Linked DNA regions of Homo sapiens: region 2 is linked to region 1. The links come from fine-mapping of genetic effects on gene expression. A gene starts in region 1. The other region holds a variant in brackets. All regions are shown on one strand. Distances are between the middles of the regions. Region 1 holds the start of NTAN1 (N-terminal asparagine amidase). Region 2 has its middle 8.5 kb from the start of LINC02130.

The links.
Region 2: its variant is fine-mapped to the expression of NTAN1 in sigmoid colon (GTEx, PIP above 0.99).

What each region holds. Positions count from the first base shown.
Region 1 is chr16:15,052,053-15,061,608 of GRCh38, forward strand. NTAN1 (N-terminal asparagine amidase) reads right to left here and starts at 4,022. Exons shown (of 10, transcript NM_173474.4): 1 at 3,839-4,022. The coding sequence starts at 3,919. It overlaps RRN3 (RNA polymerase I transcription factor RRN3), which reads right to left. Exons shown (of 18, transcript NM_018427.5): 18 at 7,981-9,556. It also overlaps a transcript of PDXDC1 not described here. RefSeq lists a silencer at 3,393-3,577.
Region 2 is chr16:14,374,026-14,383,581 of GRCh38, forward strand. No RefSeq gene overlaps it. Among named protein-coding and RNA genes, the nearest start is that of LINC02130, 8.5 kb to the left of the region's middle. RefSeq lists a silencer at 292-467 and an enhancer at 1,814-2,314. The variant A/G (reference allele first, on the strand shown) is at 4,367.

The sequences.
Region 1 (9,556 bases):
CCCAGTTCCTATTCAATGGCAGTATTCTCTTAACCCAGTGACCAGCAGATTTTCTGAAAAAGGCCAGACAGTAAATATTTGGGGTTCTACAAGGCCGCAGTCTCTGTCACAATTGCTCAACTCTGCTGTTATTATGAAGTGAAAGCAGCCATAGACAATACAGATGTGGCTGTGTTCCAATAAAACTTTATTTATAGGTGACACCGAAGTTTTAATTTCAATACCATTTCCCATGTTACAAAATATTATTTTGATTTTTCTCAACCTTTGAGAAATATAAAGACCATTCTTGGCCTATAGGCTATACATAAGCAGGGTCCGGCCCATGAGCTGTGGCTTGTTGACCTGTGTCTTAGCCAATCACCTAGCTGTGACCTGGGGGATGATCATGTGACCCTCACCCCTGCTGTCCTGTTTATCAATTCTTCCTTTATAAACAGGAGAGGGGCATGAAGGTGATCTGTGAACTGTAAAGCACAATGCTATATAAGAAATTATGAGGCCCAACACACTGGCTCACGCCTGTAATCCCAGCACTTTGGAGGCCGAGGCGAGATGATCGCTTGAGGTCAGGAGTTTCAGACCAGCCTGGCCAACATGTTGAAGCCCCATCTCTACTAAAAATACAAAAATTAGCCGGGCATGGTGGCAGATGTCTGATACTCAGGAGGCTGTGGCAGGAGAATCACTTGAACCTGGGAGGCAGAGGTTGTAGTGAGCCAAGATCGTGCCATTGCACTCCAGCCTGGGTGACAGAGCAAGGCTCTGTCTCTCAAAAAAAAAATAAATAAATAAATAATAAAAGCAGGAACTAAGCTACGCTGCGAGCATCTTGTAGACTCTGTGGAACCGTATTACCCAAGATGTTGCAGGACTGGTTACCGAGTACCCAGTGACTGGTTAAGAGTGACTAAGGGAGGGCTCTAAACAGCTCTGGCCAAAGGAACTTCATGCTGGGATGGCCACCGTCTATATTCACACTGTCTCATTAGTAGCCATGCTGTCTGCTCGGCACTTGAAATGTGGCTACTGCAACTGAGGAACTGAGTTTCAATTTTATCTAATTTTAATTGATTTTTAAGTTAAATCCTAAGTAACCAGATGGCTCGTGGCTACTGTACTGAATAGCGCAGCTCCAGAGTCAAGGGCAGGCTGCCAGGGTTCCAATCCTGGCTTCACCACTCCCAGGATGTGGGGCCTGGGGCCAGTTTCCCAGCCTCTCTGTGCCCCACAGTCCTCATCTGTAAAATGGGAATAGCAGTAACTCTTGCTGTGGTGCTTGGCAGCTTCCACTGTATGACTTATTGTTATTATTTGCTAGTCATAGCTACACACAGGCTTCTAACTGTTGGTACTCCATACTCAGAACACATCGTTACATGAAAAAGACACATTATAAAACAACATATAGTAAGCTATCATTTTTTTAAAAAAAGTAAATTATATACAAAGAAAAACCTTCATTAGGACTTTCACCAAACTAAAGAATGGTTGTAGTCATACTTTTTTTTCTGTATTATTATATTTTGCTTTCCTACAAAGAGGACACCCTGTTTTATTATATAAAAATAATCCAGGCCAGGTGGAGTGGCTCACACCGGTAATCCCAGCACTTTGGGAGGCCGAGACGGGCAGATCACTTGAGGTCAGGAGTTCAAGAACAGCCTGGCCAACATGGTGAAAACCCGTCTCTACTAAAAATAAAAAAATTAGCTGGGTGTGGTGGCATGCACCTGTAATCCCAGCTACTTGGGAGGCTGAGGCAGGAGAATCGCTTGAACCTTGGGAGACAGAGGTTGCAGTGAGCCGAGATTGTGCCACAGCAATCCAGCCTGGGCCACAGAACAAAACTAAGTCTCAAAAAAACCAACCAACCAAACAAACAAACAAAAAACCCAACCTTTAATGTCTCCCTGTTGCTAAGTAGGTGAAAGGTCCATCTAAGCCCCTTGGTCATTTGGTCATCTGGGTACAATCCACCCCTGTAAGGTTACTTTCCATGCTTCCCCTCCTCACCCGGGCTGCTCCGGAGAAACTGGCCAGGACACCCACCCACTGGGCCCTTCCCCTCCTGCCCGCCGCGCCCCAGGCGGCTTGCCCAGCTGCGATGCCCTCACCCTTCTTCTCCTTTTCAAATCTCTCTCGTGCCTGCATCCTTCTTCACTTACACTGCCGCAAATCAAAGTGATCGCCCCCTTCCAAAGTTCCTGTAACACAAACTGGTCCCCAGTACACAGCCTTTCTAGGACATGTCTTCTTAAATAGGCCAAAACCTTCCTTCGAGAGAAGCAGCCCCGGTATGTCACCAAATCTCCCTCCACACTTAAGTGTGCAGCCCGGGACACCCATCTAACTTTCTATCACGGACATTTTCAAACAGACATAAAAGTAGAGCATCCCCTAAATTCTTCAGGCGGCTGAAATTATTTTTCCTTGGTGAGTCCTACTCTTGACTTCGCTAGCTAACAGGACAGTAACACAACGCAAGGATAAAGTGACACGCCACCACGCCTAGCTCGGTGCATGTTGGCTAACAGACGATGGTCGGTCCTGAAATGCAAGCTGAGAATCACACAGAGCTGTCTGCCTTCTCCCCGTCAGTAAGTCCTTGTCACCCTTCAGAACACGTTCAGGGGTCATTTTGTGACCTCATTTATGCAGCAAATCTTTACTGAGCGCCAATTCTATGCCAGGGACCGTCCTACACTCTGAGGATACAAAAGTGAGGACACTACTCTTATCTGCCTTCAGGAGGCTTACATTCTGGCGACAGACCAATAGAGAACAAACAAGCAAACAAAATAATCACAAACTGTACAGCTGTGACAGATGAAACCTCTAAATGCCTTCCCCAACCCAACACACTTGGTCAGGTTCCTGTGCTTCCCATCTCAGAGTGAAAGGGGACGCTTTTTCTTTATGGTACTTAACAGTTTATAGTATCTGAGCCTTCTTCATCAGAAACCATTCTCCCTTCTAGACTATAAACACTCCGAGGGCAGGGACAGTGATCAGTACGTTGCCCAACAGATATTAGGGGCTCGATATTTGACTCTCAAATCAAGGAACTGATTGATTCCCCTTTAACAGGATCTATGGCAAATAGGACGTCTGCCCCCGCCGCCACGCCCCGCTCTTTTTAAAACCTGAGAACCCCCTTGCCAACAGTCCCTGCATAAGCGTGGACAAGAGTTCAGAGATCTATTTGAGCACAAAAGCAGAAAAAACAAAAACAAAACCCGTGCATCAGGGCGTGGTCCTATGGCCCAGCTGCGGAAAGCAGGGCTCTCTCTCCCGGCTAAAAATAACTCGGCGCCCTACGCCCCGGGGGTAGGGGAGAGAGAGGAGGAAGGACTGGGGGTCCCCGCCAAGATCCCCCAGGCCAAACGCTCTCCGAAGCCCACCCTGGAATAACCTCCTGCTTCACGGGGACGCAAGGACGAAGCAACGTTCACCGCAGGCTGCGGGTCCCCGAAGGCGGGCGGCCGGATTTGCCTAAACGGACCCAGCCCTATGGGGGCTGCAGCCGCCCCGTCGGGGAATGGGGGTCCCGGCGTGTCCCCGAGCCGCAGTGCTGTGCGACCTTGGGCAAGTCACCTAACCTCTCTGGGCCCCCGTCCCCTCCCTTGTCAGAGAGTGGCCTCCGGGGCAGCCCGCTGAAGTCTAAAGAAGGCAAAAACTCCCCGACCCCTCAAGGGGAAGACGCGAGCCGACGGCCGGGGCTCCGGATGTGCCAACAGCGCCAAGTTTCAAGTCTGTGTCGCGTGAGGGGGGCGCTAGCCCGCCCTGCAGCTTCCCCTCGGGCCCGCCCCGAAGCCCCGCGCCGCGCCCCACTCACCTCCAAAGGCGGGTGGGCTCGGACGAGGTCCCCGGCTGACTGCGGCAGCCGCACTCGCCGCCCCTCGACGAGCAGCGGCATCGCGGAGGCGGCCGCCCAGGCAGGCCCAGGGAGGCGGCGGCCCCCCGCTTTGCAGCCCCGGGCCGCCCGCCGCCCCCGCCCCTCGGGCCGCGCGTCCCGCCTCGTCCTGCCCCGCCCCACCGCGGGCGCTGCCGGGAAGTGGAGTCCAGGCGGAGGCGGTGCCGGCCGAAGAGACTGGAGAAATCCAGGACATGGCCGCAAGGCCTCACGGGAAATGTAGTCCAAAGCCAGGAAGTGGCCCTGGAAGCAGCGCGCGGCCCGCCTCCTCCGCAAGGGGCGCTGGGAAGTGTAGTCCCAAAAGCGTGGGAGTGAAGGAGCGGGGAAAGGAGAGCTGCCAGGGAGCAGCTGCACCAGCCAAGAGAGCCTCCGGGCGAGTTCCTGGGGCGGGTTCTGGCTCCGACTGCTGCGCTTTAGGTCATTGCTCCACGCTTCCCAGGTGTGTGACCTTCCACAAGCTTGAGTTTGGGACCCTGCTGTGCAGCTCCGTAGGATTGCATTCAATGAGTAATAATAAACCTAATCAGGCGGGCACGGTGGCTCACGCCTGTAATCCCAGCACTTTGGGGGGCCGAGGCAGGAGGATCGCTTGAGGCCAGGAGTTCGAGACCAGCCTGGGCAACATAGTGAGACCCACCCTCCCCCATACCCTCGTCTCTGCCAAAAATTTAAAAATTAACTGGGCACGGTGGCATGCACCTGTGATCCCAGCCACTCTGTAGGCTGAGGCGGGAGGATCTCTTGACCCCAGGAGTGGGAGGCTGCAATGAGCTATGTTTGGGCACTGCAGAGGGACACTCTGTTTCTGAAAATAATAAAAATAAATGTAAACGGTCTTAAACTGAGAAAATAGATCCTGAACTGTGCTAGCCCCACGTACTAAAGAGATCATCGATTAACACGTCGTGATTGGAATGCAATAGGCCACTCACAGGTGGGCTGGGAACCGTGGGGGAAGGATTTGCGGATACTGACTGCAGAGCCCCTAATCTGAGGACAGGTCCCCAAGGTGAGAGGCGTCTCACCGTGGAGCTCTCTTCTAAAACTTGGAAATATTGCTCAAATTCATCCAACTCTGCAGCACATTAACAAAAAGTAATTTTACAAAAGATACAGAGGAGCCACATGATACAGCAGAAACTTTATTAGAATTTTATCATCTGTATTCATCGTCTTCTTTCATAAATCTCCCCCTCAGCTTACACACCCCGTTCAACAAAAATACCAGGAAATTTACTAAAGAAATGACTGTAGAAGATGGTGTTCCCATCGCCAGGTTACCCAACTTCTCACCCAAAATAACTCTATTTCTAGCTACCAGGAAATTATTTCTCTGTATTATTACACCTACATTTCTCATTTGTCCTTACAAATGTAGGAGCTACTATCAACACCTCATTTGTCATTTGTCCTCACAAATGTAGGAGCTACTATCAACACCTCCGTTATAACAGATACAGTAACTTGCTCAAAGTGGTAGAAATAAGTAGTAGAACGAAGACTGAACCTAGCTTTGCATGATTCCAAAGGCAGTGCTCTCCATCACTATAAGATGCTCCTAGACTGTACTGTAAACAACTCATTCTAATGCAGGTGACATTAAGTAAGTCCCAACTAGGAAGCTCGGAGCTAAAAACAGGGTTTGAAACCAGGGTGATCAATGACCAGCAGGCTGGCCTGGAGCAAGTTACTTAACTTCCCTGAACTGGTTTTGTAGAATAGCATGTTTGTTTCACCTGGTACATACTAAACACTAAAGATAGCTATTATTGGAATTGCAGAGCAAAGAGTAGTCAATCAAAGTGAGGCATTTGGAAGTGCAAAGGTGAAGAACAAGGTTCTGTGGGTTCTGCCTGGGGCTGGTGCAGTTTGCCTAACTGGTTTTTCACTTTTGGGTGATCTTTTTTCAAGTAATCTCAGGTTATCAATCTCCTAGGCTGAGTACTGTGTTAAAGGACTAAATGAGCCAGATAACAAGCAGGAAACCACTCCCCTACCTCTCTTCCCACCCAGCTCCACAAATTTTGGTCTACAGGCAATGAGGAAGCAATAGCAGGTGTGTGGCCAGCACTGCGGCTCATGCCTGTAACCCCAGCACTTTGAAAGGCCGAAGGAGGACTCACTTGAGCCCAGAAGTTCGAGACGAGCCTGGACAACACAGGGATCCCTGCTTCTCCAACAAATACAAAAATTAGCTGGGCATGGTGGCAGGCCTGTAGTCCCAGCTACTCGGGAGGATCAATCAAGCCCTAGAGGTCAAGGCTGCAATGAGGCACGACTGTGCCACTGCACTCCTGCCTGGGTGATTACAGCAAGACCGTCTCAAAAAAAAAAGAAAAAGAAAAAGAAAGCACTAATTACAATGTTGGAAAGCCTGTTTCTTTAAGATAGGAAACCAACCTGCCTCACAAGATGGCTGATGGCAAAGTTCAAAGAATATATACAGGGAAATATTTTTTAAATTACACTTTTTTGAGGCCAGACATGGTGGCTCACGCCTGTAATCCCAGCACTTTGGGAGGCCGAGGCGGACAGATTGCTTGAGGTTAGGAGTTCAAGACCAGCCTGGCCAACATAGTGAAACTCCATCTCTACTAAAAATACAAAAATTAGCCAGGCATGGTGGTGCGTACCTGTAGTCCCAGCTACTCAGGAGACTGAGGTGGGCGGATCACTTGAGCCCAGGAGGCGGAGGTTGCAGTTGTTGAGCTGTGATTGCACCACTGCACTCCAGCCTGGGTGACAGAGTGAGACTCTTGTCTCAAAAAAAAGAATGATGAACATTATACAGAACCTTAGTAAATATTTAGTGAAAGGATCCCAATTTGTGTTTCAAATTTTTTAATGTAGAGATGGGGGTCTCACTATGTTGCCCCAGCTGATCTCAAACTCCTGGCTTCAAGAGATCCTTTTGCTGGCCTCCCCAAGTGCTCAGATTACAGGCATGAGCTACCACACCTGGCCCCAAATTATTAGATACATTATAAATCCTACTCAACCATCCAGAGTCAGACTGAAACACACAAAAGCATTTGATGGAAGAAAACATGGTGGAGCTTTGGATGTTCAATTAGTTGAAACAAGAAAAGTATGCAGTTGTACACCAATGAACAGTTCTCAAGGCAGCCTGCACCTTCGAATCACCAGGGGGCTTTAAAAACCATCCATGTCCAGACCCCTCTTCTGGAGACTGATTCAATCAAAGGTTGAGTTGGTGTGTGACGTGAGCCTGGGCATCCTTAGTTTCTCAGCACTCCAAGGGACTGATTCTAGGGCACAGCCAGGGTTAAGAACCACCATCGTAAGCACTGCCCGGCAAGGGAAACACGCTGGTTCCTCCTCTCCAGTTCAGATCTAAGTTGGTACCAGGGAGGTAGGTATTATGGAAGAAATAGAAGTTATCTTTAACCAAAAAAAACTTCCCATGGAAGTGCTTCCTTTCTTGCAAGAAAACAACAGCCATTAACTTGTACATGCATCGAATCCTTAAAGCCTTACACTAGTATCTTATTCCCATTTTACAGTTTAATTAGCGCTCAGAGAGGTTAGGTAACTTGCTCAACGTCAAACAGCTAGCTAGGAAAGGAAGCCCATGGCACTTGGTAAGTTGACTTGTAAAAATTCAGCCACTTCTCATCAAGGAAGACCAAACCAGAGCACACAGACAAAAGGACAGACCCTGGAGACTCCTACAACTGACAGCTTTTTAGTGAAAGGAAAAATTCCCATTGTTGGCATGTAATTTATAAGGAGATTTCACAGTATTTTTCCCCATAGATGTCCCTTCAAAGCATGTAACTTTTTGAAAGAAGTGTCTGCTTCCCTTGGACCTGCTCAAGCCTCAATCACTCTTTGCTGGGTGTGATTAAGGAGAGTCGCGGATACTTCATATAGTGCACACGGAAACCATCCTCACCCCGGCATGCAATGAATTCCATCAAGCTCCCCGCCACACCAGCACTATTTCTCCCTCTTCAACAGCAATGCCTCAGGAGTTTTCCACTGCAAAATGCTTTAATACATTAAATTAAAAAAAAAAAAACAAAACAGAAATTGAAAGAACATGTATTGAGGTACCTTTTATTGGTATAAGAACGTAAGTTCCAGATTAACCATGTCATTGTTTCATTTTCACCATGGATTTTTTTTCACAAACTCCTTTGAAATTAAACAGACTTATATGTAAATGTCTTTCTACATTAAAACTACTTCCCAACCCACAAAGACCCCACTTACTACTAATTTCTGGGGAATTTCGTTTACTCGTTTTATCTAATATTAAAAAATCAACATTTTGCCAGCAGTTAAAAAGACAACCTTAAAGTTCTCAAATTACTTTCCACCAAACCCGGAAAAGAAAACCACCCATATCCAAAACTTTAAAGCAATAAAAATTTCTATTTTCCAAAAAAGTATTTACAGACTGAAATTCAAACTCTACATTGCCATCAATGTAATTATACAAGTGCATACAAAGCCCTGGAAAAGAGGAAGTATTTCATTACAAAATATTTATGATCAAGAAAATATTGCTTGCCTTTAAATAAAGTGGCAGAAAATAAATATGCTTAAAGATGGCCATTTTCACAAGTAAACAAAAAAGTACACATGTAAGAAACAAAGTGAAAATGCTTGAGCTTCAAAATGACTCTAGCAGTGTTTGCACAAATTTGTTTTAAAGCGAGGTCTTCTGAAGACTTCCTCTGTTTAGTTATAAAAATACAAAAAGAGGCTTTAGAGAAGGATTTCACCAAGCCGAATGTGCGATGCACACAGCCATCAGACCAAGACTGCACTAGCAACTTCCACCTATTGTTGTGAGCAAAACCGTACACCAAATAATCTAAAAAAATTTTCCTGTTTCCAACAAAGAAATTCCCAATAACTAAGTGATGCAGATCAAAACTGACTCGATCTAATGGCCACCAAGGAGCAGTTCTAGATCTAAGGGGACACTTGAGAGCCAAGGGGTCAAATCCAATCTCATGTGTTTTACACAAGCCCGAACTCACTTTCAGTCTGTGTGAATTACATCTACCTGGACCTCCATTTTTGTCTTTTAAATCCATTTTTTCGCTGTGCCAAGTATATTACACATCTGATTCTGTTTCCCTATATCCTCTCTCTCTTCCCTATGGGCTTTTATTGGTCTCTGAAGTCCCTGGAGATCTTCAGTGCCAGCTCCAACTCTGTGTCCCAGACCATGTCGGGCCAGCTCTCAGCTTTCCTTCTGTCTTCTCTACACTCCCTTGAAATCCCAACAGACAAATACCAATACAGCAGAAGGTGAACAATGTAGCCAAAATAAACACTTTCTAGTTAAAGTCTTTAAATAGAAGTTTTATCTTAGAGGATTCTTCACTGAAAGCTCATCAGTCAAGTCCTAAGACCATGGATCTGACAAAAACCCATGTTAAAACAGCAACCCGTAAAACAGTCTGCTGCCTATATTAGAAATTACCCAGTAATTGTGTCAAAAAGCTGTTAACACAAAAAATGTACATATTAAACAAGCAAATCCTTCCAAATGTATCATCAACCCCACTGTAAAAGATTGCACATGATAGTCTTCATTTTGTCTGTAAGGGGAACAACAACAACAAAAAAACCCAGTCTTCAGATGCTTGATTCAGTCGAACC
Region 2 (9,556 bases), 680 kb before region 1:
TGGTCTTAAACTCCTGGGCTCAAGCCTCAAGCCATCCTCCCTCCTCGGCTTCCCAGAGTGTTGGGATTACAGGCATGAGCCACCACGCCCAGCCTAGGAGGGATTGTCATTTCAGCTATTCAGTCCCTGCCGCCCACTCTGCACCAGGCCCAAGGAGGAGCTGGGGACAGAGGTGAATATGGCACACTCTCTGTTCCCAAGGAGCCAAGTCAGCCAGGGGAGACGGAAAAGGACAGCCTTGTGTGACCAGTGCTGGGACCCCAGCCACGCACAGGGGCTGCAGAAATCCATAGGAGAGCATTTTCTCCCGACCTGGAGGAGGTGACACCCTGATTCTCGCCTGATTCTCTTTAACCACAGCTAATGCTTTGAGATGGATTACATCCCACTTTGCAGAAGAGGAAACAGATGCGGAGAGGTAACAGCAATGCCTAGTGAGGGCCAGGGAGGGGATTTGAACCCAGGGCTTCCAACTCCATCATTCCCAGAAAGCACTTTGGGAAATGACTGTTTCTTCTGTCCAGGGAGCCTCTTGTCACACTCAGCCAACTCATGTCAGGCACCAGAGCCAATGTCAGGCCTCCTGCTCAGGCCCCAGTCAACCCCGTCTGCTGGGAGATTTTCTCCCGCAGAGGTCACAAGTTCACAGGACCCAAGCCCAAAGCGGGAGGCACAGACAGCAGCCCTGGGGTTCTCCCAGTAGTCGGAAACGGGCTGGCTGCCTCTGGGCTCACACTGGGATCATCAGAGCAGCAGCTCAGGCTCGGATGGCCAGAATTAGGGTGGGTTGGGGTCATGGAGGGAAGAAGGCCCCGGAGATCTGATGGCTCCTAGCCTGAGGCTCTCTGTGTTTGGGCATGAACCTATGATACAGTTTGTCAGTGTCTCCACCCAAATCCCATCTTGAATTGTAGCTCCCATAACCCAGCGAGAGGTAACTGAATCACGGGGGTGGGTCTTTCCCCTGCTGTTCTCATGAGAGTGAATAAGTCTCATGAGATCTGATGCTTTTATAAAGGGGAGTTCCCATGCACACACTCTCTCGTGCCCGCCACCATGTAAGATGTGACTTTGCTCCTCCTTGGCCTCCCAAACTGCTGGGATTACAGGCGTGAGCCACTGCGCCTGGCCAGCTACATGGTTTCTTTTTGGAGCGATGGAAATGTGTAAGATTAGTTTGGGGTGATGGTTGCAAAATGACATAGATTTACTAAAACTCATAGGATTGAACACTTCAGATGAGGGAATTTTATGGTATGTAAAGTATGTCTCACTAAAGCTGTTGAAATGAAGGCAGCCTCCCAGGGCCCAGAGAGGTATCTAAAGACTCTGGTTATGCCAGCCGCGGTGCCTCACACCCGTAATCCCAGCATTTTGGAAGGCCAAGATGGGAGGATTGCTTGACTCGAAGAGTTCAAGACCGCCCTGGGCAACATAGCAAGACCCTGTTTCTTTATAGTTTAAAAAAAGACAAAAAAATAAGGACCCCGGTTTGAAATGCATTAAAAATTAGAAATAGAAAAAAAATTAAAAATAAAGACTCCCAGCCTGGTGTGGTGGCTCACGTCTGTAATCCCAGCACTCTGGGAGGCCAAGACAGGAGGATCACTTGGGGTCAGAAGTTCAAGACCAGCCTGGCCAACATGGCGAAACCCCGTCTCTACTAAAAATATAAAAATTAGCTGGGTGTGGTGGCACGTGCCTGTAATCCCAGCTACTCGGGAGGCTGAGGCAGGAGAATCACTTGAACCCGGGAGGCGAAGGTTGCAGTGAGCTTTTGCACTGCAGCAGAACAAGACTTCCTCTCAAAAAAAGAGACTCTTCTAGACAGACAGACCCTGCCTGAGCACATGACCTGGCCAGGGGGCCTTCCTACATGTCCTTGTCCTAAAGCAAGCTGTAGGTACCCTCTTCTTGGGGCAGCCGTGGGCAGGACTTTGCCCAGCTATTCCTCCCTCCCCACCAGTCCCTCTGAGGACAGGTCCCCAGAGAGAGGCAGGCAGGAGTTCCAAGGAGGGAAGGGGCCCTGTTGTTCGAGTAATAAGCTCATTCTGATGCTCCAGGAGCCTCCTGGGGATGGCAGCCATGGTTAATCAGCCAGATGGCTTGGGCAACATGAACTGACGTTGGTGCCAGCTGTGTGAGGGGCACAGGGCAGGGGGGCCAGGCGGCTGGCAGTATGCCCCCTTCCCACTTTTTTTCTCCCCTGGGATCAGAGAAAGGAGGCCTCTTGCCATCAACATGGAATCTCCACCCCCAGGTTCTTCAAACAGAGGCAGACCCCTCTACGGCTGAAATATCAGAGGGCAGAGAGCGCCACGTGCACCCCAGGCCCCCACCAGCTCGGGGACAAGGGGCATTGGCAGTGCAGATTCATGGTTACAGTCACAGAGCCTGGAGTCAGGCCACCTGGCTTCAGATCCCAGGTGGGTCACTATGAGGCTGTGTGACATCCAGCAAGTGTTTTTCTTGTTGTTGAGACAGAGTCTCGCTCTGTCGCCCAGGCTGGAGTGCAGTGGTGCGATCTCGACTCACTGCAGCCTCCATCTCCCAGGTTCAAGCGATTCTCCTGCCTCAGCCTCCGGAGTAGCTGGGATTATAGGTGTGCACCACCACACCTGGGTAATTTTTGTTCTTTTAGTAGAGACGGGGTTTTGACATGTTGGCCAGGCTGGTCTCAAACTCCTGCCCGCTAGTGATTCACCCGCCTTGACCTCCCAAAGTGCTGAGCCACCAAGCCCAGCCCCAAGTCTTTTTTTTTTTTTTTTTTGAGATGGAGTCTTGCTCTGTTGCCCAGGTTGCAATGCAGTGGCACAATCTCAGCTCACTGCAGCCTCCATCTCCCAGGTTCAAGCAATTCTCCTGCCTCAGCCTCCTGAGTAGCTGGGATTACAGGCACCCGCCACCATGCCTGGCTAATTTTGTATTTTTAGTAGAGACGGGGTTTCACCATGTTGGCCAGGAGAGTATCGAACTCCTGACCTCGTGATCTGCCCACCTCTACCTCCCAAAGTGCTGGGATTACAGGCCCCAGCAAGTCTTATAATGTCTGAGCCCTCACTTTCTTATCCAAAAAAGTGGCCATAATAATAACAGTGCCCTCCTGGCAGGCTACAGCCAGGATGAAAGCAGTGGGCATAGAACTTTCTGGGATCCTCATCATCCTCCTGAGCTCCTCCCAATAGCGGAACTGGCACGCGGCAGAGCTCAGAGGGTGGATCTCCAGGGTAAAGGGGCCAACAGGTCCCAAGCAATTCGTTAGGCTTCATGGCTGGACGGGCGGCCACTTCTTTTGTTGCAGCTTTTTTCTAAAACCCTGAGATTTCCCCTAACAGGGAAGTAAATGTAGAGAATTCAGAATGAGCCCTCATGTTCAACGTGCAGCATCAATGGAAGACAGCCTGGAGGTCCCTCAAACAAACAAACTTAGAATCACCCTGTGACCCAGCAATTCCACTCCCAGGCATATGCCCAGCAGAATTGAAAACATCTGTGTACACAAAAACTTATGCATGAGAGTTCACAGCAGCATGACTGGTAACAGCCAAAGAGGGGCAACAACCCAGATGTCCAGAGAAGTAACTGGTCTGTCCACACAATGGAGTATTACTCAGCCATTAACAAATGAAGTCCTAGCCATTAATAAACAAACAAAAAAAAGACTTGCTGGGGCTGGGCTTGGTGGCTCAGCACTTTGGGAGGTCAAGGCGGGTGAATCACTAGCGGGCAGGAGTTTGAGACCAGCCTGGCCAACATGTCAAAACCCCGTCTCTACTAAAAGAACAAAAATTACCCAGGTGTGGTGGTGCACACCTATAATCCCAGCTACTCTGGAGGCTGAGGCAGCTACTCTGGAGGCTGAGGTGTGGTGGCTCACACCTGTAATCCCAGCACTTTGGGAGGCCGAGGTGGGCTGATCACTTGAGGTCAGGAGTTTGAGACCAGCCTGGTCAACATGGTGAAACCCTGTCTCTACTAAAAATACAAAAAATTAGCCAGGTGTGGTGGTGCATGCCTGTAATCTCAGCTACTGAGGAGGCTGAGGCAGGAAAATTCCTTGAACCGGGGAGGCGGAGGTTGCAGTGAGCTGTGATTATGCCACTGCATTCCAGCCTGGGCAAAAAGAGCAAAACTCTGTCTCCAGAAAAAAAAAAAAAAAAAATTAAGTACTTATGAACGTACATCTGGCAGGAAAAAAAAAAAGTAGTGCTGACACAGGAATGAGCCTTGAAAACATTATGCTAAATGCAAGATACCAGACACAAAAGTCACATGTTATTTGATCCCATTCATATGAAGAAGAAAAAAAAGGGATCCTGGAATTTGGACATGGGAAAGTCTAACGGGTTCCACTCTGGCCACGGAG[A/G]TGAGCTTACTGAGGCTGGAAGGGGAAGAGATTTGCCCTGTGTCACTTGGATATCCTGTTACCTGATCGCCTGAAGGAAGGGTGTGGTTGACCAGAGCTGGGCTTACCCTAGGTGGGAGGAGCTGGGGAAACAGAAAGGCCTGTCTCTTGGCTATCAGGGGAGCTTTATGCAGAAGCCCTGGTCTGCACGCTGATCCTTCTAGAAGCCCGAGGTCCTTCATCTTTGCCAAGACCAAGGAGCGGGAGGGAGACATGAGACCATCCCCATCGCTGTGTATTGAAGATGGACCAGATACCAGGCACGCTGCACAATCCCCCCATTTTGCAGTGGAAGAAAGAGATGGGGAGGGGTACACGGGCCCACCTGGCTGAGGCCACAGGGCAGGCAGGACACAGCTTGGGGTGCAGCTGGGTTCATGTGGTCCCAGACGATGAGTTGCCCATTGAGGAAAAGGTTGACTCAGAAAGGGCTCCGCACCCCCAGGGATTCCTGCACTGAGCTGGTTAGTTGAGAAACAGAGTGGCAGGACAGTGAGTCACAAGGCTTCGTGAACCCACGCGGAGTCCCCCAGCCCTCTCCACCTGCCCCAGGCCTTCTGGGAGTTTTTACAACAACCCATGGGATTGGGGGCCCTTTTCCTTCCCGGGCCCAGCTCCTTCCTGGTAGCCAGCCCCGTGATGCCCCACCTCTCCTGTCCACTCCCCTCCTTGAAGCCACTCAGAGGCCTGGGGGCAATCTTGTCTCTGCACTTCTTCTCCCAAGTCCTGGGCAAGTCCCCAGGCTCACTCTCCATGCCTGCCCAGTGAGCCTCCTGGGCCATCGGAAGGAGCCCTCAAGAATGTGCAGTGGGGTTGGACAGCTCTCCTGTCATGCTCCCTCAGCGCCACAAGGGACCAGAGTTACCCGGTCCCCACCCCAACATCTCCATCCCAGGACACACGTCAAGGCCTCGGCCAAGGAGTGAGAAGAAAATGTGAGCTCAAAGCAAGCGGGCATCTTTGAATTGAGCCTGGATCTCTTTTTTTGAGATGGAGTCTCACTTTGTCATCCGGGCTGGAGCATAGTGGCGCAATCCCAGCTCACTGCAACCTCTGCCTCCTGAGTTCCTGGGTTCAGGCGATTTTCCTGCCTCAGCCTCCCGAGTAGGTGCCAGGCACCTGCCACCACGCCTGGCTAATTTTTTTGTATTTTTAGTAAAGACGGGGTTTTACCACGTTGGCCAGGCTGGTCTTGACCTCCTGACCTCAAGTGATCTGCCCTCGACCTCCCAAAGTGCTGGGATTACAGGCAAGCCTGGGTCTTTCTGGAGATCCTGGGAGGGAGGAGGAGAGGGAGGACCTTGGGCCACAGGTAGGACACACCGCCTAATGCATCTATCCAGGGCCAAGGCGGGGTCAGGATGAGAGGGACAGGCCTCCAAACAAATCAGAGTTACCCTTGGCTCTGAATCTAAGTCCAGAGGGACTTGGCGGAGAATGGGGAGGACCTCTCAGACAGACCCTCACTGTCCCTCTAAGTAGCTGCCTCCCCACCCAACCCCCAGGCCCATCTTACCAAACCAGAGCCCACCAGGCTACTCTGCTTCTGTTCATATAAAAGCTTCAGTGGCTTTCCAGTGCTCGGCACTGGGAAAGAGGCCCAGCCCTGCCTCCCTCCCCAAGACCAAAGCTGGGACACTCCTTCACTCCCATCCTTGCTCCAGCCATAGGGAGCTGGCCCTGAGCCCCGTCATGATGCCTCCTAGGTCTGCCACGTTCTGTTCCCCCACTGCCCTTTCTCCTCTGCCCAGAAAATTCTATCCAACCTTCAAAACTCAACTCCAACACTGCAGCAGTCACCCTTGAGAGCCTTAGGGACCAAGCCTTTATCATCTTTCTATTTTTGGCACTGAAAACAGTACCTGGGCAGAAGGTATCGCCCGAACGTGTCTTCTGAACGGCTGGGCCACGGGGTTTGCCTTGAACTAAAACCTTACAAAGGGGGTCGGTCCAACCTCCCAACTCTCCAGTCTGGGGGAATTCAGAGATTCTACAGTGGAGACTGGGCAGGAACTATAACAACGTGAATGGCAGAGGGATAGACTGGAAGAGAGTCCAGAAAGAGACCTGAGCCTCCATGAGAACTCAGTCTGCAGTAAAGGAAGCATATCAAAGTGGGCGGCAAAGGACTTGTCATTCAAAATGGCCAGTGATTTGGAAAATGAGCAGAGTTCGATGCCTACTTCACCTGGAAACAAAAGCCAATGGTTAAATGTTTCAATGCAAAGACACAGAAAAGCAAAAAGAAAAAGTACACAGCACCGGAGACAAGAAACCATGAAGCTCCCTTATGGTAAAATGGGCCACATACGAATCTTACATTCCTGTTCTTTTTAAGGCTGTGTTCAAAAATGAAAGGCAAAGGACAAATTAAAAAAATATTTATAACATTTGATAAAGTGTTATCATTTCTTATCATTTAAAATGGAAAAGACTAGGCACGGTGGCTCATGCCTGTAATCCCACCACTTTGGCAGGCTGAGGCGGGAGGATCACTTTAGGTCAGGAGTTTGAGACCAGCCTGGCCAACATGGTGAAACCCCATCTCTACTAAAAATACAAAAATTAGCCAGGCGTGGTGGGCGCACCTGTAGTCCCAGCTACTCAGGAGGCTGAGGTAGGAGAATTGCTTGAACCCAGGAGGCAGAGGTTGCTGTGAGCTGAGATGGAGCCACTGTACTACAGCCTGGGTGACAGAGCAAGACTCCATCTCAAAACAAAACAAAACAAAACAAAAAACAAACAAAAAAATACAAAAATTAGCCACGCAGGGTGGCATATTTTAAGGACAAAAATAAGTACATAGGCATCGTAAATATCACCCACATTTGTAGTTTTGTTTTTTTTATTGAGGTGAAACTCAGACATGAAATTTGCTGTTTTAAAGTTTACTATTCAGTGGCATTTAGTACATTCAAGATGTGTTGTCCCAGACTGAGGGAGGAGGATCTCTTGAGCCCAGGAAGTAAAGGTTGCAGTCAGCTGAGATTGTACCATTGCACTCCACCCTGGGCAACAGAATGAGACCCTCATCTCAAATAAAAATAGGCCGGATGCAGCGGCTCATGCCTGTAATCCTAGCACTTTGGGAGGCTGAGACAGGCGGATCACCTGAGGTCAGGAGTTTGAGACCAGCCTGACCAACATGGAGAAACCCTATCTCTACTAAAAATACAAAATTAGCCATGTGTGGTGCCACGCACCTGTAATCCCAGCCACTCGGGAGGCTGAGGCAGGAGAAACGCTTGAACCCGGGAGGTAGAGGTTGCACTGAGCTGAGATTGCACCATTGCACTCCAGCCTGGGCAACAAGAGTGAAACTCCATCTCAAAAAATAATAATAATAATAATAAAAAAAAGATAAAAAGCAAATCCCAAAGGTGAATACAATACAGAAACAAGTAACCTAATTGCATATCAAATTGATAACATAATCAAAATGAGAAAACTTATTTATTTATTTATTTTTTGAGATAGAGTCTCACTCTATGGCCCAGGCTGGAGTGCAGTGGCACAATCTCAGCTCACTGCAGCCTTCACCTCCCAGGTTCAAGCGATTCTCCTGCCTCAGCCTCCCGAGTAGCTGGGATTACAGGCGCCTGCCACCACACCTGGTTAATTTTTGTGTTTTTCATAGAGACAGGGTTTCACCATGTTGGCCAGGCTGGTCTCGAACTCCTGAACTCAAGTAATCCGCCCACCTCGGCTTCCAAAGCGCTGAGATTACAGGAGTGAGCCACTGTGCCTGGATGAAAACTTATTTCTGTTAATACTACCTGTTGAACACAGTGATCTTACTGTACCTCCTCAGGGTGATATATATTCAGTGACATATTTTAAGGACAAAAAGAATGACATAGGCATCTTAAATAGCCCCCATGTCTGTGTGTGTGTGTGTGTGTGCAAGCGCGTGTGTGTTTTGAGACGGAGTCTTGCTCTGTCACCCAGCCTGGAGAGCAGTGGTGCGACCTCGGCTCACTGCAACCTCCGCCTCCCGGGTTCAAGCGATTCTCCTGCCTCAGCCTCCCACGTATCTGGGACTATAGGCGCGTGCCACCACGCCCAGCTAATTTTTGTATTTTTAGCAGAGACGAGGTTTCACCATATTAGCCAGGATGGCGTCAATCTCTTGGCCTCGTGATCCACCCGCCTCAGCCTCCCAAAGTGCTGGGATTACAGGCGTGAGCCACCGCGCCTGGCCTGTCTTCTTTTTTTTAATTGAGGTGAAACTCACATGAAATTAATTAAAGTTTTAAAGTGTACAACTCGGTGGCATTTAGGACATTGAAGATGTTGTGCAACTATCACCACTATCTATCATCACTATCTGGAACTTTTTATTGCCTCAAAAGAACACCTCATCCCCATGAATCAGCCACTCCTTACTCCACCCTTCTCCCAGGCCCTGAAAACCACCAATCTGCTTTATATCTTTTGTAGGTTTGTTTTTAGAGGTTGTTGCTATTACAATTTTTGAATAATTGTATACTTAGTGTAGGATAAATACTAATGTTTTTAGGGACCTAGATTTTCAGTGTGTGAAAAAAGAGATATAAATATAAAAGTAGTTATGATGAGGCCAGGTGTGGTGGCTCATGCCTATAATCCCTGCACTTTGGGAGGCTGAGGTGGGAGGATCACTTGAGCCCAGGATTTTGAGACCAGTCCAGGCAACACAGCAAAACCTAGTCTCTACCAAAAAAACAGCCATGGTGATGCACACCTGTATTCCCAGCTACTTGGGAGGCTGAGGTGGGAGGATCTCCTGAGCCCAGGTAGAGGCTGCAGTGAGCTGTGATTGTGCCATTGTACTCTAGCCTGGGCAACAGAGCGAGACCCTATCTCAAAAAATAATAAAAATAAGTGCAGTTAGGATGAACAGCTGAACAGCCATTTTTATACCAATATTCATAAGAGCATCATTCACAATAAGTCAAAAGGTAGAAATAACACCCGTGTCTATTATCAGATGAATGATAAACAAAATATGGTATATAAAGACAATAGAATATTATTTAGCCTCAAAAAAGGAAGGAAATTGGCTGGGCGCGGTGGCTCACGCCTGTAATCCCAGCACTTTGAGAGGCCGAGGCGGGCAGATCGACCACGAGGTCAGGAGATCGAGACTACCCTGGACAACATGGTGAAACC